Regions from separate parts of the Homo sapiens genome. Here region 2 is linked to region 1. The links come from fine-mapping of genetic effects on gene expression. A gene starts in region 1. The other region holds a variant in brackets. All regions are shown on one strand. Distances are from middle to middle.

Region 1 (15,577 bases):
CATACAATCTACCCATTTAAAGTGTACAGTTCAGTGGCTTTTGTATATTCAGAGTTAGCCATCCATCACCCGAGCAATTATAGAACATTTTCATTAGCCTGAGAAGATACCCTGTCCCCGTTAGTCACTCTCTTCCTCTTTCCTCTGTATGTCTGACATCTCCGGTCTCTTTCTCCGTCTGGGTCTCCCTGTGTCTGGAACCTGGCTCTCTGCCTTGATTCCTGGGGTTCTCTTCTCACAAGCCTTCTGGTCTACGTCTCTGTTTCTGTCTCTGACTGTGGAGTCTCCCTGCCTCCTGGGTCTCCAGTGCCCTGTCTCCCCATATTTCTGACACACCTTCTCACAGCCTGGCCCATCTTGCTGGGTCCCCTCTTCTCCTCCCCTTCCTGCTCCATTTGTCAGCACTGCTGGGACATTAAAAATGTAACAGCGTCCCAGGCAGGGGCGGGGGAGCTGGCCCATGTGCCCAGCTCCCTGTCCCTTCTGTGTTCATCACTCCCTGTGGCCCCCACATGTCGCTGGCCTTGAGGCCCCCTGTACCCTGACCTCCGTGGGTCACGGCACCTCTGCTGTCCCACAGCTGGAGTCTTTGGGGCTCCCTGCCTGTCACCAAACCCCTTTCCTTTTCCTGTCCCTGCCTTCATCTGGTATCTATGTCTAGCTCCCTTCCCCCACCCTCCTCCGTCCCATTCCAGTGTCTTTCAGCCTCATCCCTGTGTCGGTATTTCACTCCCCCGACCCTGTGCCGGCATTTCACTCCCCTTCTATCCTCTGATTCCATTCCTACACGTGTCTCTGACCCCATTCCTAAATCTGTGTCTGACCGCTTCCCTCTATTGGCCTCTGTACCCATCCTTGTAGCTCCAGCCTCTCTATATACCCACCCCCCAACTTCTCCTCTGCCCAGTCCCCCTTCCCTAATGAGAGGAGACAGCCAGGCTGCCGTCCCTCTGCTCCCCTCCCCCTCCACTACGTGGGGCTGCCTGGCGGACATGGACACACGGATGGGCAGGGAAGAAAGCTGGGGGAGGGGAGCCGGCCCAGCTGGGGGCCCAGGTGGTGCACCCGCATTCCCCGAGGAGGCCAAGCGGGGGAGGCAGTGGAGCTAGACAGGTATACAGAGAAAGACGGAGAGGAGAGAGAGAGATGGGGAGAGGAGAAGAGAGAAAGAGCTTGGAGAGGGATGGAGAGAGAAAGGGTGAGAAACGAAGAGAGATGAAGAGGGGGAAAGAAAGTGAGGGAAGGAGGAAAACAGGGAGGGGGAGGGGAGAGAGAGAGAGAGGGAGAGCGAGCACATGCCAGCCGGCCAGCCAGTGGACAGCAGAGGCGAAGGATTGGGGTGGGGGTGGTCAAGAAAGGGGCCGACAGCTCCTTCTCCAGGGGCTAAGAGGTTTCACAGGGAATCAGTGGGGCCTGGGAGCCTTCCGGATGGTCCGCAGGGAAAGGATTGTTATCTCAGTTTTTTTACGAGGGAGGAAATGGAAACTCAGAGGCACTTCCTGGAGCCCACCCGGTGCGGGGCTCTGAAGAACCGGAGCCCGGCTTCCCCGGGACCTGCTGTGAGACCTTGAGAAGGCTGCTTGCCTTTGCTGAGCCTGTTTCCTCATCTCTAAGATGGAAACAGAAACAGGACCTGTTTCCCAGGGCAAGCTGGAGCCTTCGGTGAGATCATGCACCAAGCTAACAGTAGGCTCAGGGTCTGGTGGGTTCGGAGAATTCACCCAGAGGTGCCAGTTCTGATCTCATCTGCCTATTTCTGCCTGAAGGGAGAGGCAGGGGATGGAAGCGGAGTTCCCAGCTCTGGGTCAAAGCTGGGAGGCCAGTGAGAGCCATCCTGGGGGAAATGAGGCCAGAGAGGTGGCCGGGGTTCCCCCAAGATCCCCCTGAGCTCTCTTCTGCGCAAACCCTCGGGAAACTCTAGCATCCCAGAGTTTGTCGCTGGGAATACACAACCGGGTCACCTGCAAGGGGCGGGGCCAGCGCCTCTTTCAAGGGTTCCCTCCCAGCCCCTCCCTCCCCAGGGGGGCCGCTCTCCTCCCCTAGTGGGGTGGATGGAAGGACGCCAGGGGGTCCAAGGCATAGCAATGGGAGGGACGGGGGATAAGGGCGGCGGCTCCACTCGTCCACCTCCTGCTATGGCTCTGAGGACAAAGGCGCTACCAGAGGATAGATAAGGTCCCGAAACCGGGGAGTCCGGAACCCGGAGCCAGGAGCGCCCGCCCCGCCCCTCCCTGGCTCGGCGAGAGTGAAACCAGGAAAACTTCCCCGGCGACGTCTCCGTCGCCCCCGACCATTCATAGGGAAAGGGAGGAGTCTCCCAGCCTCTGGGACTCGGGGCCTCCCGTTCTATCTGGGACTCAGGCGACTGAGACTCCAGCCTCAAGACAGAGCCTTCGACCCTTGATCATATCTGGAGCCCAAGAGACGGGGCCCGCTGCTCGCACTTCTGTTTGGATCTCAGAAGACGTTCCTCTGCCTACAATTAAGTCTGAAGCCCACGAGATCGAGTCTCCTGTCCCCCGGTTCTGCCGGGAACCCTGAAAACGAAGCCCCCTGCCCACAATTAAATCCAGAAGCTACAAGTTTGATCCTCTCTCGCCCCCAGTTTTACCTAGATCCCAGTTAGACTTAGCGCCTAGCCTCCATTCTACCAGGGACCCTGAAGACGGAGCCCCCGGCCCCTAATTTTTCTGGAGTCCACGGAGTCAGAACCCCCAACTCCCTGAGGTTCGGGGTTGGAGCTCCGAGCTCAGGCCCTTCCCCCTAAGTCGCCAGAACTCTTATCCTTAGCCCTCCAAGGGACCCGAATCAGGTCCGCTTGTCCTCAGTTCTCTCCGGGCCTCAGACGCCCAAGCCGGGAAGAAGGAAAAATAGGGGAGGGAGGTGGTCTCGCCTCTTCCTCGAGACCTTACTGCGGTAGGTGGGGGGAACATTCCCCACATTCCTGAGAGGGGTAGAGGAGACAGAGACCCAGATCCGGGTGAACTACTCGGCGCGGGGTGGGGAGGGGGCACCAGGCCTTCCTGGGATTTAACCCTTTCGGCGCGGGAATCCGAGAAATGGGGAGGGGGACAGACAAGCAGGCGTAGGATGGGCAATTGGATTAAGAAGGATGGGGGTGGTGGTGAGAGAGATGCAGAAAGGAGGGGTCAGAGTCTCCTCGAGAGAATCGGACGTGTAGGGGGTCGGAGTCTGTGGGGCCAGCCAGGAAGGGGGCACGCGAGAGGGGGCTCGGGGAGCCGGGGGTGGGCGGGGAAGGTGCTCGGCTTCCCCAGCTCGGAAGGTAAGGTTGGAGGGGGTCCGCGCGAGGGCAGGGGGCCGTCCGCTCGTCTCACCGGTTTCCAGGAGCAGCAGCAGCAGCAGCGGCCACAGCAGCGGCGTCGGCGGCGATCTCGACGGCAGGAGGGCAGCGGCCCGGGCCATGGAGGGCCCGGGAGGGGACTGGGCCCGGCCGGAGGCCCGCGGGCCACTCTGTGGGGGCCGATCGGCTGGGCGGTTTAGTAGGTGCCTGTGGGGCTCCGGCTCCGGCTCCGGGCCGGTTCCCGCTGCGCTCTAGCCTCCCTGTTCTGCTCTCCCGGCCCAGCTCTCCCCGCCCGGCTCGGCACCCCCGGCCTCTCGCTCAGCTCCGGCGGTTCGAACCCGCTGACGTCACAGGATCCACCCGCTGCTCCCCCGAGTCAAGCCGACCCTGGCTCCGGCCCCGCCCCCTCCTGGCGTTCTGACCCCGCCCCCCGGATTCCACCCCTGTTCCTCCCCGGGATTCCATTCTCGCTCCTCCCCAGGATTCTAAGGTCGCCCCTGCCAAAGAATTCTGTCTCCTTCGCTCCCGGCGTTAAACCACGCCCCCTAAGGTCTAGCCACGCCCCCTCTGCTCCCGAGTAGTTCCCACGCCCCGCCCCCTGCCTACCGGCCGCCTCGCCAAGGTCTTGCCACGCCCCTTTCGGCCCTTCCGGCCGACTCCGCCCCCACCAGCCCCGCCTCCACCAGCCCCGCCCCTCGCCCTAGCCGGAGTTCTCTCGGTCTCTTAGCTCAGTCCGTCCTGGCCTCTGTCCCACCCACAGTTCGAATCCTGCCCTTTCCTGCCTGCCCGGGTCCTCTCATCACAGTTGCCTGAGGCACGTGGGGCTTTACGGTTCTGCCCCCAGCACGTCCCGGTTGTGCGACCTCCCCGCAGGTCGAGCCCATCGCCCTGAGCCTGTTTCTCGTACCCTCGTGCGTTTCTAATCTCTGCCCCGAACTCTAGGTGTCGCTGCACTCGTTTCTTTCTGGATTTCTCTGTCTCTCTTACGTGTCTTTGTGTCTCTCTCACTCTCTTTGGGTCTTCCTCTCTGTCCCTGTATTTCTGCCTCTCTGGGTCTTTCCGTCCTCATGCTTCGGTGTCGCTCTGTTTCTGGTCTTCCTTTGTCAGTCACTGTTTCTTTATTTCAATAAAAGAGACGGGGCGGGGGGGCGGCGGGGTCTCACTATGTTGCTGAGGCTGGCCTCAAGCGATCCTCCCGGCTCGGCCTCCCAAGATGCTGGGATTACAGGCGTGAGCCACCAAGCCCGGCCTGTCTGTCACTGTTTCTGGGTCACTTGGTCCCCATGTCTCTTTCCATCCTTTGACTCTGTCTCTGTGTCTCTCTGTCTCTATCTGTGTGCCTCTCTGTCTCTGTCTCTATTTCTGTGTATCTCTGTCTCTATCGGCCTGTCTCTGTGCCTCTCTGTCTCTGTGTGCCTCTCTGTCTCTGTGTTTCTCTGTCTCTATCTCTGTGCCTCTCTATCTCTGTGCTTCTCTGTCTCTGTCTCTCCGTGTGTCTCTCTCTGTCTCTATCTGTGTCTCTCTGTCCCTGTCTCTTTCTCTGTGTCTCCCTCTCGGCGTCTCTTGTCTCTGCGTGCGAGTCTCTCTCGCTGTCTCTCTGTCCCTGCTCTGTTCTCTGCTTCCTTCCCTCCCTACCTCCCTGCGCGCCCTGGTCCTCCCCTCCCAACACCTGCTCCGCGCCGCCTTCTCACCGCAGCCACCCGCCAGGGGGCAGCAGAGACCGGCCCCCGCGCTGCGCTGGCCCGGCCGGGCTGGGTGGGGCTGGGCTCCAGTCCGGCCTCCGGACCTGGTCACTCCCCGCGTCCTTGTCCCACTTCCCCTATCTCCCCAGCCTCCTCGCGTCTTTGTGTCTCTCGCTCAGACTCGGGCCCTTTGTCTCTCCCAGCGGCTCGCCCTCCTCCCTACCCCCACCTACCTCTTCGCATTCTTTGGGCTGCCCAGGGGGAGCTGGTGAGGCCGCGCCGGGGGGCGGGATGAGGGCGCGAAGCGGGAGGCCGGGGGAGGGGGTGCCACGGAGCGCCAGTCTGGGCCCAAGTTCGTCCAGGGCCAGGAGGCGCGGAGCTGCTCAGCTGGGGGCAGGTGCTTGGGGGCTTCTTGCCCTAGCAAGAGGACCACCTAGGCTCGCCCTCCCTTCCACCTGCCACACACCTGGGCTTTCCTCCCCAGAAGGACTAGGTTTCAAGTAGCAGAGGCTGTTATCCCTCCGCATTCGAGTCTTAGTTATGATCCTTTTTTTTTTTTTTTCTTTGAGACGGAGTCTCGCTCTGTCGCCCAGGCTGGAGGGCAGTGGCGCGATCTCGGCTCACTGCAACCTCTGCCTCCTGGGTTCAAGCGATTCTCCTGAGTCAGCCTCCTGAGTAGCTGGGATTACAGGCGCGCGCCACCACGCCCGGCTAATTTTTGTATTTTTAGTAGAGACGGGGTTTCACCATGTTGGTCAGGCTGGTCTCAAACTCCTGACCTCCTGATCCACCCGCTTCAGCCTCCCAAAATGCTGGGATTGCAGGTGTGAGCCACCGCGCCCGGCACTTACGATACTGTTAATACATGTAGTCAGCACTTACCGTGTGCCAGGCACTGATCTAAGTGCACTGCGAATATTATCTCATGTAAGCCATGCAGCGCCATGGGCGATAGGGAAACTGAAGCAGAGAGATGAAGTGACTCACTGAGTTACAAAATGGCAGAGCCAGGGCGGGGCGCCCTGGCTGACGCCTGTAATCCCAGCACTTTGGGAGGCTGAGGCGGGTGGATCACTTGAGTTCAGGAGTTCGAGACCAGCCTGGCCGACATGGTGAAACCCTGTCTCTACTTGGGAGGCTGAGGCAGGAGAATCGCTTGAACCCGGGAGTTGGAGGTTGCAGTGAGCCGAGATCGCACCACTGCACTCCAGCCTGGGCAACAGAGTGAGACTCAGTCTGAAAAACATAAAATAAAATAGAAATTAAAAATAAATAAAAATAAACAAAATGGCAGAGCCAGAGCTGACTCTTCTAAGCACCTTATTTCTCTTAGTTAGTTCCTCACAGGGATCCCATGAAGGGGACACCATGGTGATCCCCATTTCACTGAAAAGTAAACTGAGGCACAGGGTGGTTGTTTGCCCCAAGCCACCCAGCAAAGACACATAGCAGGCCGGGTGCTTCTTTTGGGCCCGGATGGTCTGTGCTCTTTTTGTTTTTGAGACGGAGTCTGGCTCTGTTGCCAAGGCTGGAGTGCAGTGGCGCAATCAATCTCGGCTCGCTGCAACCTCCGCCCCCCAGGTTTGAGTGATTCTCCTGCCTCAGCCTCCTGAGTAGCTGGGATTACAGGCACGCACCACCACGCCCGGCTAATTTTTGTATTTTTAGTAGTGACGGGCTTTCACCATGTTGGTCAGGCTGGTCTCGAACTCCTGACCTTGTGATCTGCCTGCATTAGCCTCCCAAAGTGCTGGGATTACAGGGGTGAGCTACTGCACCCGGCCAGTCTGTGCTTTTAACCTCCATGCCATGTGAGCTCCAGATAGCTTGTGTCTCAGGCTTGGCACAAACTGGGTGTGAGGATGGCTGGACAAATAGGCGCACACATAATAAATGCATAGCAGCTACAGCTACTCGGGAGGCCGAGGTGGGAGGATCACCTGAGCCCAGGGAGGTTGAGGCTGCAGTGAGCTGTGATTGAGCCACTGCACTCCAGCCTGGGAGACAGAGAGATTTTGTCTCTAAAATAAATAAATACACAAATAGGCCTTGCGCAGTGGCTCATGTCTGCAATCCCAGCACTTTGGGAGGCCAAGGCTGGCAGATCACTTGAATTTAGGGGTTCAAGACACGCCTGGCAACATGGTAGAGCCCCGTCTCTTAAAATATATATAATAATAAAATAAAACAGTAAAATAAATAAATGTGCTTAATTTATTTATGTATTTAATTTTGAGGCAGGGTTGTGCTTTGTCGCCCAGGTTGGAGTGCAGATCTTGGCTCCCTCTAACCTCAAACTTCCCAGCCCAAGGGATCCTCTGCCTCAGCCTCCTGAGTAGCTGGGACTACAGGCATGTGCCACTATGCTCGGTGCATTTTTTTTTTTTGAGACAGTCTCTGCTCTGTCGCCCAGGCTGGAGTGCAGTGGCGCGATCTTGGCTCAGTGCAAGCTCCGCCTCCCAGGTTCATGCCATTCTCCTGCCTCAGCCTCTCGAGTAGCTGGGACTACAGGTGCCTGCCACCACGCCCAGCTGATTTTTTGTATTTTTAGTAGAGACGAGGTTTCATGGTCTTAGCCAGGATGGTCTCGATCTCCTGACCTCGTGCTCCACCTGCCTCGGCCTCCCAAAGTGCTGGGATTACAGGCGTGAGCCACTGTGCCCGGCTGCTCGGTGCATTTTTAAATGTTTTGTAGAATTTGATTCTCGCTTTGTTGCCCAGGCTGGTCTTGAACTCCTGCCCTCAAGTGATCCTCTCACCTCAGCCTCCCAAAGTGCTGGGATTACAGGTGTGAGCCATCGCGCCTGGCAATAAATGTGCTTTAGATCTCTCTGACCTTCTCTCCCCAATCTGAGGCCAGGTTTGTGGACCAGGACCTCTGGGTTTTAGTGCCAGCCTTGCTACTAACTTGCTTTGCAAAATCCTGGGACCCCCGTTTATCCATTGAACAAAAGAACCAGTCCCCAGGAAGTCTTCTTCTAGGAAGGCCTCTAGCACCTCCTTTCTCCTGGCCTACGAATGAGTGGGCTTAGCTCTCTCCTGGCTGTTCTTTGTGAGCAGGGATGAGCCCAGGAAGAAAGCCCCAGGAGGCTGGCCATGGTGGCTCAAGCCTGTAATCCCAGTACTTTGGGAGGCCGAGACAGATGGATCACCTGAGGTCAGGAGTTTGAGACCAGCTTGGCCTACGTGGTGAAACCCTGTCTCTACTGAAAATACAAAAATTAGCAGGATGTGGTGGCGGGTGCCTATAATCCCAGCTACTTGGGAGACTGAAGCCGGAGAATCGCTTGAACCCGGGAGGTGGAGGTTGCAGTGAGCCAAGATTGTGCCACTGCACTCCAGCCTGGGTGACAGCAAGGCTCTGCCAAAAAAAAAAGGAAAAAAAAAAAAAGAAAGAAAAAAATGCCCCAGAGGTGTAGGCTGGAGTTTCACACCCTTGGGTCACAAGCATGAGGCTGAGCACCAAGTTTGGTGACAAATGACTGGGTGGGTTCCACGCCCGCCTGGGGAGTTGACTTTTAGTGTCAAGGAGTCCCAGAGGTGGCACTTCACTGAAGAGCCATAACCACTAGAAGGTAGGGGCATAGGTAGGGGCAAAGGCTTCCTGACGGAGCTATGGAGCTGATGCCAAGTATTTTACCTGCCTGGCAACCTTTCCTTTCTTTTAGCAGCAGCAGCAGCTCCCCTAACCACTTCCTCCCCTCAGTCTTTTTTTTTTTTTTTTAATTAAGACAGGGTCTCACTCTGTCGCTCAGGCTGGAGTGTGGTGACATTACCATGGCTCACTGCAGCCATGACCTCCCTGGCTCGGGATCCTTCCATGTCAACTTCCCGAGTAGCTGGGACTACAGGCATGTGCCACTATGCTTGGCTAATTTTTCTATTTTTTTGTAGAGATGGGTTTTTGGGTTGTTGCCGAGGCTGGTCTTGAACTCTTGGGCTCAAGCAATTTGCCTGCCTCGGCCTCCCAGAGTGCTGGAATCACAAACGTGAGCCACCATACCCGGCTCTTATTCTGAGACAGGGTCATGCTCTGTTGGCCAGACTGGAGTGCAGTGGTACAATCATGGCTCATTGAAGCTTCCACCTCTCAGGCTCAAGCAATCCTCCCACTTCAGCCTCCCAAGTGGCTGGGACTATAGGCATTCGCCACTGTGCCAGAATAATCTTTTTTTTTTTTTTTGAAACGGAGTCTTGCTCTGTTGCCCAGGCTGGAGTGCAGTGGAGCGATCTTGGCTCACTGCAAGCTCTGCCTCCTGGGTTCACGCCGTTCTCCTGCCTCAGCCTCCCGAGTAGCTGGGACTACAGGCGCCCGCCACCATGCCCAGCTAATTTCTTGTATTTTTAGTAGAGATGGGGTTTCACCTTGTTAGCCAGGATGGTCTCAATCTCCTGACCTTGTGATCTGCCCGCCTCGGACTCCCAAAGTGCTGGGATTACAGGCGTGAGCCACCGCACCCGGCCAATCTTTTTTTTTTTTTTTTTTTTTCTGATACGGAGTGTCAGTCTGTTGCCCAGGCTGGAATGCAGTGGTGTGATTTTGGCTCACTGCAACCTCTGCCCCCTGGGTTCAAGTGATTCTCCTGCCTCAGCCTCCCAAGTAGCTGGGACTACAGGTTTGGGCCACGACGCCTGGCTATGTTCGCAGTTTTATTAGAGACGGGGTTTCACAATATTACCAGGCTGGTCTTGAACTCCTGACCTAAAGTGGTCTGCCCTCCTCTGCCTCCCAAAGTGCTGGGATTACAGTCGTGAGCCACCGTGCTCGGCCTGCCAGACTCATCTTTTGACTTTTTTGTAGAGACAGGCTCTCACTAGGTTGCTCAGGCTGGTCTTGAACTCCTAGGCTCAAGCAATTTTCCTGCCTTGGCCTCCCAAACTGCTGGGATTACAAGCATGAGACATGACTCCTGGTATACATATATATATATATGAGACTATATATATATGTATAGACTATATATATATATATATGTATGAGACTATGTGTGTGTGTGTGTGTGTGTGTGTGTGTGTGTGTATATATATATATATATATATATATATATATATATATATATATAGTCATTTGCAATCAAATATAACCTTACTAATAAACTATATACCCCAAAAAATCTGTACATGTCTGGGAGATGCACAGAGCTTTGTAAATTTCCAAGGGCAGGGCAAGGAGGGGCTGGTGGTGAAAGCTTTCAGAATTCTTCAGGATGTCCAGGCTTTGAAGAATAGGCAAGCTTTGTCACAGCACGGGATATGGGGAAGGGCATTCCAGGTAGGAGGGTGGTGACAGCGGGAGCAGGGGATGTGAGGGTCAGTATCTTAGAAGGTCCAGAATGCCAGCTGAAGGGCGGCTCATGCTCTGGGAACCACAGAAGGTTAAAGAGCAAGGGTAGTTTACTACCAACTTCTCTTTACTTCCTGGAGCCCCAGATCCTGAGGTTCACCCCTCCCACTTTCCTATTGCCCTAGGCCTTTGTAATGTAGGCTGGAGTTTCAACCCTTGGGAGGAGGGGTCATACTGATGTGGCCCCAGGCTGCCATCTCTATGCAAATTCCCTGGGATGCCATGCAGATGAGGGACCTTATGCAAATGTATTCCCTCCTGGTGGGGCAGGCTGGGATCCTCCACTCATTAACTTGGGGACCAGGTACTGGATGGAGAACCCTTTCCTCTTCTCTTTCCCTTCCCACTAGCCATCTGTTCACTCGCCATCCAACTCACCAAACCCCAACACCAATGTCTGCCTTTAGAGTGGTATCTCTGTATCTGGTCCCTGCCCTGGACTAAGGGAGTGTTTGTATTTTATTTATTTTATTTTATTATATTTTATTTTACTTTTGAGATGGAGTCTCGCTCTGTTGCCCAGGCTAGAGTGCAGTGGCGCGATCTCGGCTCACTGCAAGCTCCGCCTCCCGGGTTCACGCCATTCTCCTGCCTCAGCCTCCCGAGTAGCTGGGACTACAGGCGTCTGCCACCATGCTGGCTAATATTTTGTATTTTTAGTAGAGACAGGGTTTCACCGTGTTAGCCAGGATGGTCTCGATCTCCTGACCTCGTGATCCGCCCGCCTGGCCTCCCAAAGTGTTGGGATTACAGGCGTGAGCCACTGCGCCCAGCCTATTTGTTTATTTATTTATTTATTTTTGAGACGAAGTCTCGCTCTTGTCCCCCCAGGCTAGCGTACAATGGTGTGATCTCGGCTCACTGCAACCTCCGCCTCCCGGGTTCAAGCGATTCTCCTGCCTGAGCCTCCCGAGTAGCTGGGATTACAGGTGCCTGCCACCACGCCCAGCTAATTTTTGTATTTTTAGTAGAGACGGGGTTTCTACTAAATCATGTTTGCCAGGCTGGTCTCGAACCCCTCACCTCAGGTGATCTGCCTGCCTCGGCCTCCCAAAGTTCTGGGATTACAGGCGTGAGCCACCGCACCTGGCCTTTATTTTTTTTTTTTTGAGACAGAGTGTCGCCCTGTCACCCAGGCTGGAGTGCAGTGGTGTGATCTCGGCTCGCTGCCACCTCCGCCTCCTGGGTTCAAGTGATCCTTGTGTCTCAGCCTCCTGAGTAGCTGGGATTACAGGCGCGTGCCACCATGCCCAGCTAATTTTTGTCTTTTTTTTTTTGTAGAGACAAGGTTTCACCATGTTGGCCAGGCTGGTCTCGAACTCATGACTTCAGGTGATCTGCCTGCCTCGGCCTCCCAAAGTGCTGGGATTACAGGTGTGAGCCACCGCACCTGGCCTAAGGCAACCTTTTTGCTTTTCTCTGTGTCTCTTTATTTTTCCTTAGATAATCACAATAATTAACATGTACTGCACATGGACTCTGTGCCAGGCTTTGTACTAAATACTTCCCTGGTTATCTCATCAAATTCTCCCCTCCATCCTCTGATCCTCTGTGTGCATTTGCTGTATTTTTTTAAAGGGAATTTTCAATTCTGTTATATAGGGAACAAGAGCCCTATAAATAAGGACACAGACAGGTGAAATGAAGGATGGATATTAAGAAGCAACTCAAGCCGGGCGTGGTGGCTCACACCTGTAATCCCAGCACTTTGGGAGGCTGAGGCAGGCGGATCATGAGGTCAGGAGATCGAGACCATCCTGGCGAACACGGTGAAATCTTGTCTCTACTAAAAATACAAAAAATTAGCCAGGCGTGGTGGCACCCGCCGGTAATCCCAGCTACTCGGAAGGCTGAGGCAGGAGAATCAGTTGAACCCGGGAGGCGGAGGTTGCAGTGAGCTGAGATCGCGCCACTGCACTCCAGCCTGGGCAACTGAGCAAGACTCCGTCTCAAAAAAAAAAAAAAAGCAACTCATGAGACCTGTTAGACATACTAAGAATGTGAGCTGAACACAGATGGGAGGGATGCAGGGATCCAGTAAGCTCCAAGCATTCATGCGTCCTGTGGGCGACACCCACTCTGCTCCATGAGTCCCAAGCCCAAGACACAGGTAAAAGCTGTGGCTGCCAAGCAGGTGATCAGCCAGCTACAGTCATCTAGCTTCTCATGTTTATTTTTGTTGTTGTTTTGAGACGGAGTCTCGCCCTGTTGCCCAGGCTGGAGTGCAGTGGCGTGATCTTGGCTCACTGCAAACTCCGCCTCCCGGGTTCAAGTGATTCTCATGCCTCAGCATCCCCAGTAGCTAGCATTACAGGTGTGCCCCCCTACCCCTGGCTAATTTTTGTATTTTTAGTAGAGATGGGGTTTCACCATGTTGGCCAGGCTGGTTGAGAACTCCTGACCTCAAGTGATCTGCTTGCCTCGACCTCCCAAAGTGCTGGGACTACTGTTATTTTATTTTTTGAGACAGGATCTCGCTCTGTTGCCCTGGCTGGAATGCAGTGGCTGGATCACGGCTCACTGCAGCCTCAGCCTCCCAGGCTCAAGGGATCCCCCTACCTCAGCCTCCCGAGTAGCTGGGACTACAGGCGTGTACCGCCACATCAGGCTAATTTTTGCATTTTTTGTAGAGACAGAGTCTCTGTTTGTTGCCAGGGCTGGTCTCGAACTCCTGGGCTCAAGTGATCCTCCTGCCTTGGCCTTCCAAAGTGCTGGGATTACAGGCCTGAGCCACAGCGCCCAGCCTGTTTTATTTTTTGAGTTTTGCACAACATCTTTTGTTTTAATCAAATCTCTTTGTTTTACTCCCATAGATTTGGCTTCAAAATTGAAGATCTAGATTCCATGTCCAGAGAAAGAGAGAACCTGATGAGTCTTGAGAACAAGACCAGGGACAAGATCTCTGAGCTGGAGTTCAAGGTCAACAGCCCACTTTGGTTAACAAGAGGCACCTCCTGGCTGTCCAGTGCTTCCTCGTGGAGGAGTCAACTGCTTCTCTTGGGAGGTGGAGGGTGTTCCCATCCAAGTGCCTCCTCAGGCCCTAGAGAGTCAGGGATTGGTTGCAGTTCCTGAAGTCTCTTCCTAGGTCTGTGGACCTTCTAAGGAATTCCACTGACCACTTTCCCCACTGGAGTCCAGCAACACCATTAGGATGTGAATTATTATTATTATTATTATGTCTTGGAGACAGGATCTTGCTCTGTCTCCCAGCCTGGAGTACAGTAATGCCATCATAGCTCGCTGCAGCTTTGACTTTCTGGACTTGAGCGATCCTCCCACTCTGAGTAGTGGGGACTGCAGGTGTGTGCCACCATGTTTGGCTAATTTAAAAATTTTTTTGTAGAGATGGGATCTTGCTGTGTTGCCCAGGCTGGTCTTGAATTCCTGACCTCAAGTGATTTTCCCGCCTTGAGCTCCCAAAGTGCTGGGATTACAGGCGTGAGCCACTGTGCCTGGTGGGTTGTGAAGTTTGTTCATTGATGTCTCCCCAGTGCCTGGCACACAGTAAACACTCAATACACTTTTTATTTTTTTGAGACGGAGTCTCGCTCTGTTACCCAGGCTGGAGTGTAGTGACTCGATCTCAGCTCACTGCAACCTCCGCCTCCAAGTTTCAAGTGATTCTCCTGCCTCAGCCTCCCGAGTAGCTGTGACTACAGGCATGCACCACAATGCCAGGCTAATTTTTGTATTTTTAGTAGAGATGGGGTTTCACCATGTTAGCCAGGCTGGTCTCGAACTCTTGACCTCAGGTGATCAGCCAGCCTTGGCTTCCCAAACTGTTGGGATTACAGGCGCGAGCCACCACGCCCTCTGAACTTTTCTTGAAGGTATGATTGCGTGAATGGAGGAATGAATCCTCAGGTGTGTTTTGCCAGGGGCTGGCCAGGCATGGCTTTCCCAGTAGGTGCTCTATTGCATTGGAAAGGTGGAACAGGCTTGACTTCCATGTTTGTGAATATAAACTGGCCTCTTAGGTCTTTCTTTCCTCCAGTCTTTCCTCCTCAGGCATAGATGGTAAACAAAATGTCACCAACCTCACCAGCAAAGTGCTCATTTCCCTGGGGCCAGAACATGATGTACACAGACACAAATTTAGCATATTTGATATCATGATATCATGCCCACCTGGTGGGGTCAGCTGGGTGGGCTGCCCACCTGGGCCCCAAACCTCTCTCGCACTCTTCCTGGGAATCTATCCTTTTGCTGAGACTGCAGGCTATGCCTCTTGGAGGTGGTAAACAGAACTTCAAGGGGCAGAGACAGGTACATGAGGCACCACACAGACCCACTGACCCAGTCTGGCTCCAGGGTTAAACAGATCTTGAGACAATGAAAATAAACTTAGCAATAATCAAAGCTTTAAAGTAAAAGCTTCTATATATATGTGTGTGTGTGTGCGCGTGTATATACACATATATATGTATGTATTTATTTATACATATATAAATATATATGCGTGTATATATGTACATATAAATATATAAAATTAAAGAGATGTGGGAGGCCGGGCGCGGTGGCTTACACCTGTAATCCCAGCACTTTGGGAGGCCGAGGCGGGTGGATCACAAGGTGAGGAGATCGAGACCATCCTGGCTGACACGGTGAAACTCCGTCTCTACTAAAAATATAAAAAATTAGCCAGGCGTGGTGACGGGTGCCTGTAGTCCCAGCTACTTGGGAGGCTGAGGCAGGAGAATAGCGTGAACCCGGGAGGCAGAGCTTGCAGTGAGCCGAGATCGCCCCACTGCACTCCAGCCTGGGCGACAGAGTGAGACTCCGTCTCAAAAAAAAAAAAAAAAAAAAAGAGAGATGTGGGAGGTCGGGCGTGGTGTCTCATGCCTGTAATCCTAACACTTTGGGAGGCCAAGGCAGAAGGATGGCTTGAGCTCAGGAATTCAAGACCAGCCTGGGAAACATAGTGAGATCCCATCTCTACAAAAATAAAAAATTAGCCTGGCGTGGTGGCACATGCCTGTGGTCCCAGCTACTCGGGAGGCTGAGGCAGAAGGACTACTTAGCCCTGGGAGGTTAAGGTTGCAGTGAGCAGTGATTGCACCACTGCACTACAGCCTGGATGACAGAGCGAGACCTTGTCTCTAAATAAATAAATAAGGCTGGGCGAGGTGGCTCATGCCTGTGATCCCAGCACTTTGGGAGGCCGAGGTGGGCAGATCACCTGGGGTCGGGAGTTTGACACCAGCCTGGCCAACATGGTGAAACCTTGTCTCTACTAAAAATACAAAAATT
Region 2 (8,000 bases), 30 kb before region 1:
GTGTATTTCCAGTTCGGTGTCTGTCTGGGCGGGTGGAGCTGACCCTCCCCTGGGTGTGCTACTGAGGGCAGGGACTGTGGCTCATTCACCATTGTATTCCCAACCTCAGCAAGAGTGCCTAGCAAACAGGAAACACATATTTGTTGAATGAGAATCTCCCTAACGGACTTTCTGGATAATTTCGGAGGAGTTTCGGGGAGTTTCGGGAGGGTTCCTGGGAAGAAGCTCCTCCCAGGATGTCTTTGATTTTCCGTCTGAGGGTCTGTGAGTGAGGGATGACATTCCTCCGTGTGCAGCCGTTGCTGTCCTGGATTAGTTTTGCCCCCAGCGTGTCTGTGTGACGTCTTCCTCCGGGGACTTATGTGCATCCTCACGCGCCAGGCGAGCCCAGAGCGGGACAGCTGTCTCTCTGGGTTTGCTGTCTGTGACAGTGTTTCCCGTAGGGGTGTCCTATCTCCCTGGCTGTATCTGGATTCCTGAAGAGGTGTCTGTTTTCCCTCGGGTGTCCCTGCAAGTGTGTGTGCATTCTAAGATTATGACTCAGTAAGGGGGTCTGCTTCTGTCCCTCCGTGGCTAGTCTGTCTGCATGACAGGGACAGCCCCTGTCTGGGAGTTTGTCCCTACACCTTCAGTCATGTTTCTGGGGGGCCTGCACATTGCGTGTTTGCACAGGTGTGCTGCATGGACCGTCGCCCTGGCGTGTTTCTAAGAATGTCTTTTTCTGGCCAGGCGCAGTGGCTCATGCATATAATCCCAGCACTTCGTGAGGCCGAGGCGGGTGGATCACCTGAGGTCAGCAGTTCGAGACCAGCCTGACCAATATGGTGAAACCCTGTCTCTACTAAAAATACAAAACTTAGCCGGGTTTGGTGGTGAGCGCATATAGTCCCAGCTACTCAGGAGGCTGAGGCAGGATAATTGCTTGAACCCGGGAGGCGGAGGTTGCGGTGAGCTGAGATTGCGCCACTACACTTCAGCCTGGGCGACAGAGCGAGACTCCATCTCAAAAAAAAAAAAAAAGAATGTCCCTTTCCAGGTGTCATCTGGCTTCGTTCAGTCTATCTTGGCTGGTGCCACTGTCCTCCTGGGTGTGTGTCTTGGTGACAATGGGTTTGAGCGTGCAGGGTTACCATCCAGGTGAGTGTCTGGATTCTGATGCATCTCTGCAACAGAATTTCTCAGCACAGGGAGTGTCTGTGGCTGTGGATCCTGCCAGCTGTGGCTCTGACAGGAGGGGTCTCTGGCCCTATCTCCAGGACCCAGGGGTCTCTCTGTCCCAGGAAGCATGGCTCTGTTAACAGTCCCGGCCGCGCTCTAGGTGTGTGGCCCTGCAGTTGTGAGTTTGACCCAGTTTCCATCACTGGGTGATGGTCTGGCTTTGTGCTTTTCCTCTTTGGCTCCGTGCCTTGGGGCCGGATTGTGTTTCTGGGGGTGGGAGCTCTTGGTTTCTGTCTCTTTGAAGTTTGCATGCCTGACTCTAGGTGTGCGTCTTTCTCAGGAGCTGGAGCCCAGGGCAGCTTCCTCGGGTCTATTCGTGAGGACCCTACCCAGGCCTCTACTTTCTAGGAACCCCGAGCAAAGTCCTCAACCCCCCAACTCTGCTGCCTTCACCTACCCCGACACCCCAAATCCAGACCCCAGTCTGAGGCCACGAGGGGAAGGCCAACCCTCATCTCCCCTCAGCCAGGCAGGTCTGCATCCCTCCCAGGTCGGCGGCGCAGCCTCCCCCAGTGCAGCCCCAAGTCCTGAAGGGCAGAACTCCAGGGGAGCGGACCCAGGTCTCCACACACGGCCCCCAAGACCCACTCACCTCGGACAAAGATGACCTGCTCAGCGCGGCCCATGCCCACGGCATTGGTGACTGTGCAGACGAAGGTGGTATTGAACAGACTGTCCACTGCGTGGATGACCAGCTGGGAGCCCTGGGCCACTGCGGAGGTCGGGAAGGTGCCTGAGGTCCTGGAGGGGTGTGGGGTCAGGTGAGAGGGATACCAAGGTCGAGAGGGGAGCACAGGCCTCATCCCTAAAGATACACCCACCAGGAGCCAAGCTCCAGGGACCTAAGTACTCCCGGAGACCCCAAATTGCCAAAATGCAAGCTCCCTTCATCCTGGAGGACTTAGGAATTTAGGCCCAGCCCCTCCTCCCTCAGATCCAGGAGTCCAGGCCCCCAGCCCCTCCTCCCTTAGATCCAGGAGTCCAGGCCCCCAGCCCCGCCTCCCTCAGACCCAGGGTTCTGAGACCACGTGACTCACGTGCTCCAGTCATAGCCCGTGGGCTCTGGGTTGCTGCGGACGTCACAGCTCAGGGTGGCATCAGTACGGCCGAGGTACCAGTTGTCATCATAGCCGGAGATGGACACTTCAGGAGGGTCTGGGGGAAATGGGGGGACTGGATCAGCAAGGAGGAGAATCCCAGAGCGGGTGGACAAGTTAGCAGATAGACAGGAATGCTAAAGAAACGGGGCGGGTTGGCAGGAGGTACAGCAGTCAAAACTGTCTGGGGCAAATCAGTCCAGGCTGTTGTGTGCTGATGTCAGTGTAGACACTGTTCAGGGAAACCACTGTGGATAATTTTGTGGGAGTTATTGTTCAGTGCTGGCAGTGCCTAAGGGAGCCACTACAAATAATGTGTGTGTGTGTGTGTGTGTGTTTTTGAGACAGGATCTTGCTCTGTTGCCCAGGATGGAGAGCAGTGGGGTGATCCTGGTTTACTGCAAACTCCACGTCCTGGGCTCAAGCCATCCCTCCGCCTCAGCCTCCCAAATGGCTGGGATTACAGGCATGTACCACCACGTCCAGCTAATTTTGGTATTTTTAGTACAGACAGGGTTTCACCATGTTGCCCAGGCTAGTCCCGAACTCCTGACCTCAAGTGATCTGCCCGCCTTGGCCTCCCAAAGTGCTGGGATTGCAGGTGTGAGCCACCGCACCCGGCCTGTGTGTGTGTTTTTGGCATGGAGGGAGGATGTCAAAACAGGGTTTGGGCAACCAGTGTAGGTCCCGGGAGGAAAGTGGCACAGACGAGGCTCAGGGGAGCTGTTGCACTTATGGGCGCACGTGATGCATGTTGCCTGGGGGAGCTGGTGTAGACTTGGCTTAGGGAATCTGTGTAAGTGGAGGCATTGCCTGGGGAGCTAGTGTAGACAACATTGAGTTGGGATATGTGGTCATTTTGGACAGTGGTGGAAGAGGTGGTTAAGCCAGTATTTGAGGGATTCTGTGTGAA[G/C]AGTGCCAGGGTGGCCTCTCTGGGTAACATTACGAGGTGTGAGTATAGGCAGTTTCTGGAAGAGCTAGCAAAAAACCCAGTGGGAGGGGTCAGGATCAACAGGGCCCGGGGGGTGGAGCCTGTAATGTAATATATAATATAATGTAATTATATTATATTAAATAACAATAATAAATAATGACAAAATATATGTTAATATATAATATATAATTTATATATTTTATATAATATATAATATATAAAAATATAATAATAAATAATAAATAATAAATACAATGTAAATAATATCAAGGATCAGGGGTCGGTGTAGAGACTCTGGGAGACTCAGTATAGATGGCACCTAGGGAAGTCAAGGCAGAAGTATGGGAAGGTGTGGAGACGATGTTAGGTTGGGCAGTGTAGACATGTAGACATGTGGACATGGCCCAGCATGATTGATCTAACGGTCCAGGGGCAGTGTCAACCGGGGTCCATGGGAGCCAGAAAAGACACTGTTGGGGGCAGCTCTTTGCTGGTAAACCAACTCTCTGGGGAATAAAAGAAGCCCCCATTTCTAGGGTTTGCCAATTTCCTTGGTGTAAATATTCCCCAAGGTTGATTTCAAGCTACCGAGAAGACTTCATTGGATGTGGAATTGGAAAGAAATGTATCAAACTGGCTCTTGCAAGCCCATCCCAGGTTACCACAGACTAGGCACAGCATGCAGGAACCCAGTAAAGCCAATGTAGACAATGAGGGGGAAGTATGTAGATTTGCCCATGGGAGCCAGTGTAGACAATGGCAGGAAGGTAGTGCAGAATTTGGCTTCAGGGAACCCACGTAGACAACATTCAGAGACAATGTAGACAGTGCTTTAGAGAAGCCAGTGTAGGCAGTTTTGATGGGGGAGGGGTCACCCCCGATACACTCACAGCGTACAGAGAGGGTCACAGGTATCAGGGCTGGTTCCTCGAAGCTCTCATGCTCCACTTTGCAGGTGACCGTGACACCATCTGCTCGGCCCGAGGGCACCAAGGTGAAGCGGCTGGTGACAGTGACAGTTCCGGCCAGGGTCCCTGACACCTGAGTCTCTTTGGCTTCCCAGTCCAGGGATGAGAGCCAGGAGATCCGGGCAGGTGGGCGGCCCTCTTTGGAGATGCAGAGGGCCACTGTCGTAGGGTCCTGGCTGAACGTGACCTTCTGGGCCTCAGCTTGGTTCTTGGGCTTGGCTGGGGAGAGGAGGAGAGGGGGTGCGTCACTCCTCACCGGCAGTCATTCAACAAACACTCAGCAGAGGAGCAGGGTGGTTAGGCCCTAACTGCCGGGGTTCCAATCCCAGCTCTGCTGCTTATCAGCGGCCTGGCTTGGGATAAGTGGTTTTGCAACTCTGTAGCTGTTTCTTGTTTTGTAAAATGGGGATAATGAAAGTACCCACCCCTAGGATTGCTGTGTGAATTAAATAATACATTGATAGGTAAATGGCTTAGGGTAATGTCTGGCCTGCACTGCCCTATCCAAGTGTTGCCCATTTTATTTTACTTTATTTATTTTTTAGAGACAGGGGCCCGCTCTGTCACCTGGTCTCGAGTGCAGTGGTGTGATCATAGCTTGCTGCAGCCTGCACCTCCTAGGCTCAAGTGATCCTCCCGCCTTGGCCTCCAGAGTAGCTAGGACCATAGGCATGCACCACCATGCCCGGCTAATTTTTAAATTTTTTTGTAGAGATGAGTTCTTGCTATGTTGCCCAGGCTGATCTCAAACTCCTGAGCACAAGCCATCTTCCCACCTCGGCTCCCCAAAGCTCTGAGGTTACAGGCGCCTGGCCTGGCCATTTCGGTATACTGTCTCTTCGCCCTGCCAGAGATGCAGAGACAGGGTCCAAAAGCCTAGAGGAGGCTGAGATTTAAAAAAAAGCTGGTCGGGCGTGGTGGTTCACACCTGCAATACCAGCACTTTAGGAGGCTGAGGAGGGTGGATCACTTGAGGCCAGGAATTTGAGACCAGTCTGGCCAACATGGTGAAAACTCATCTCTACTGAAAATACAAAAATTAGGATGGGCGCAGTGGCTCATGCCTGTAATCCCAGCACTTTGGGAGGCCCAGGTGGGCAGATCACCTGAGGTCAGGAGTTCTAGACTAGCGTGGCCAACGTGGTGAAACCCCATCTCTACTAAAAATGCAAAAATTAGCTGGGCGTGGTGGCAGGTGCCTGTAATCCCAGGTACTCGGGAGGCTGAGGTAAGAGAATTGCTTGAACCTGGGAGGCAGAGGTTGTAGTGAGCCGAGATCGTGCCACTGCACTCCAGCCTGGGTGACAGTGAGACTCTGTCTCCAAAAGAAAAAAAAAAAAAAGGAAAAAAAAAAAGCAAATCAAGGCCGAGCGAGTAACTGAGTACTGTGGTTCAAAGGTCCAGCTGGAAAGGCCCCCTGTTCCTTTTCCTGTAATCACCATTAGATGATTGAATGACTGGAAGTGTGATAAAGGCAGAAAATCTCAAAGCCGTTTCTTTTTTTTATACCCTTTCCACCTCATTCTCTTGGAAAACATGGAAAAAAATCACAAAAACAAAACTCCAGGAAGAATAGCAGCTCATGCTTATGATGTGTGTCCCCCACCCAGACTCACATCTTCTGTTGCTTTCTGGACCTGGGTATCCACCTCTGAACTTCTCAACACGGTCTGACTCTCCTCTTCTTCCCAGCTCTCCCTTCCCACCGCCTTCTCCCCTGACCATCGTGGAGCATCCAACAAGCCTCCCCACATCCTCCTGGCCGCCCTCCAAGCTGTTAGAATAGTGACTCAGGGCCCGAGCCCACCACTTCCCCATGGCCACCTCCCCTGGCCACTCCACATGCTCCCCATCCACGCCCTCCTCAGTCTCTGCCTCCACCCACTTTGGGGTTTTGGTTGGTGATTTTGTGCCTGGATTGCTTTGGCCTCCTTCTCCAGACCCCACTCCAAGCCCCACTTCGTCAAGGGCACTTTCCTGACCGCCGACTCTGGCCAACTATTCCTTGGTGGCTCACGCATCATGAAGACAGAGGCTTTGGCTGTTTTGTTCCTTACTTCTGCACCAGTGTGTATACGGAAGCTCTTGAGGTTATCTCTCTCTCTCTCTTTTTTTTTTATTAATTTGAGACAGAGTCTTGCTGTCACCCAGGATGCAGTGCAGTGGTGCAATCTCAGCTTACTGCAACCTGCCCTTGCTGGTTTCAGCAATTCGCCTGCCTTAGCCTCCTGAGTAGCTGGGATTACAGGTGTGCGCCACCATTCCTAGCTAATTTTTATTTGTAGTTTTGGAGACCCTCTCTCCAAGAAACAAACAAACAAACAAAAGCTCACTTGCAAGAGCTGCTTGCCTTGGCCCCTGCTTGAAGTGTATATTCAGGGCAACTTCAATCTATGCTCCCAGGTGGTCATCCTCAAGCTTTGGGCTTGATTAAACCCTACACTTAATCATATTTTCTTTTCTTTTTTTTTTTTTTTTTGAGATGGAGTCTCGCTCTGTCGCCCAGGCTGGAGTGCAGTGATGCGATCTCGGCTCACTGCAAGCTCCGCCTCCTGGGTTCATGCCATTCTCCTGCCTCAGCCTCCCAAGTAGCTGGGACTACAGGCACCCGCCACCACGCCCGGCTAATTTTTTTGTATTTTTAGTAGAGACAGGGTTTCACCGTGTTAGCCAGGATGGTCTCAATCTCCTGACCTCGTGATCCGCCTGCCTCGGCCTCCCAAAGTGCTGGGATTACAGGCGTGAGCCACTGCGCCTGGCCCTTAATCATATTTTCTGAGTCTCATTATTTATTTATTTATTTTGAGACAGAGTTTTGCTCTTGTTGCCTCTCAGCCTCCCAAAGTGCTGGGATTACAGGTGTGAGCCACCGTGCCCAGCCCTGAAGTTATCTCTGGATGAGAACAAATGATTGCACAAGAAGAGAGGCGTTTGTGAGGGTGGGGAGGAGAAGAGCTGTCCTTTGTATTATGGAAAACGGCTGTGGTTTCATGTGTTACTGGAAAGGGAAGTGTTTACTCAAGGATAGCACAGGGTGACCTTCTCAGACGCTCTGGGCTGAGAAGGGGGAAGAAAAGGCATCCAGAGTGACGTGGCTTCTGGGAAGTTGCCTAGGGAAGGTGGGCTCCCAGGGGACTTCCAACATATTTTTTTTTTTTTCCAGACAGAGTCTCACTCTGTCGCCCAGGCTGGAGTATAGTGGCGCGATCTCGGCTCACTGCAAGCTCCGCCTCCCGGGTTCAAGCCATTCTCCTGCCTCAATCTCCCGAGTAGCTGGGACTAAGGCACCCGCCACCACGCCTGGCTAATTTCTTGTATTTTTAGTAGAGATGGGGTTTCACCGTGTTAGCCAGGATGGTCTCGATTTCCTGACCTCGTGATCCGCCCGCCTCGGCCTCCCAAAGTGCTGGGATTACAGGAGTGAGCCACCACGCCCAGCCTCAAGATTTAAAGAAAGAGCATTCGTAGCTGGATGTGGTGACTCATGCCTGTAATCCCAGCTATGCAGGAGGCGGAGGTAGGAGGATCCCCTGAGCCCAGGAGTTCGAGTCTAGCCTGGACAATGTAGTGAGACTTTGTCTCAAAAAAAGAAAAAAAAAAAAAAAGAAAAAGGAAAAGAAAAAAAAGCATCCTTCAAAAAAAATCTTCCCTGCCTTCTCTATTTTTGCCAAGTATCAGTCACCTTCCCGCTGGGAGTCCTATTTTTTTTTTTTTTTTTTTGAGACAGGGTCTCGTGCTGGAGTGCAGTGGTGCAATCTTGGCTCACTTGCAATCTCTGCTTCC

The links.
Region 2: its variant is fine-mapped to the expression of NECTIN2 in whole blood (INTERVAL, PIP above 0.99).

What each region holds. Positions count from the first base shown.
Region 1 is chr19:44,834,372-44,849,948 of GRCh38, reverse strand. It overlaps NECTIN2 (nectin cell adhesion molecule 2), which reads right to left and starts at 3,652. Exons shown (of 9, transcript NM_001042724.2): 1 at 3,336-3,652. The coding sequence starts at 3,423. RefSeq lists an enhancer at 960-1,942 and silencers at 3,582-3,681, 3,812-3,891, 3,972-4,021, 4,889-5,288.
Region 2 is chr19:44,868,289-44,876,288 of GRCh38, reverse strand. NECTIN2 (nectin cell adhesion molecule 2) reads right to left here. Exons shown (of 9, transcript NM_001042724.2): 3 at 4,140-4,436; 4 at 2,256-2,373; 5 at 1,811-1,959. Among named protein-coding and RNA genes, the nearest start is that of TOMM40, 19 kb to the left of the region's middle. The variant G/C (reference allele first, on the strand shown) is at 3,229.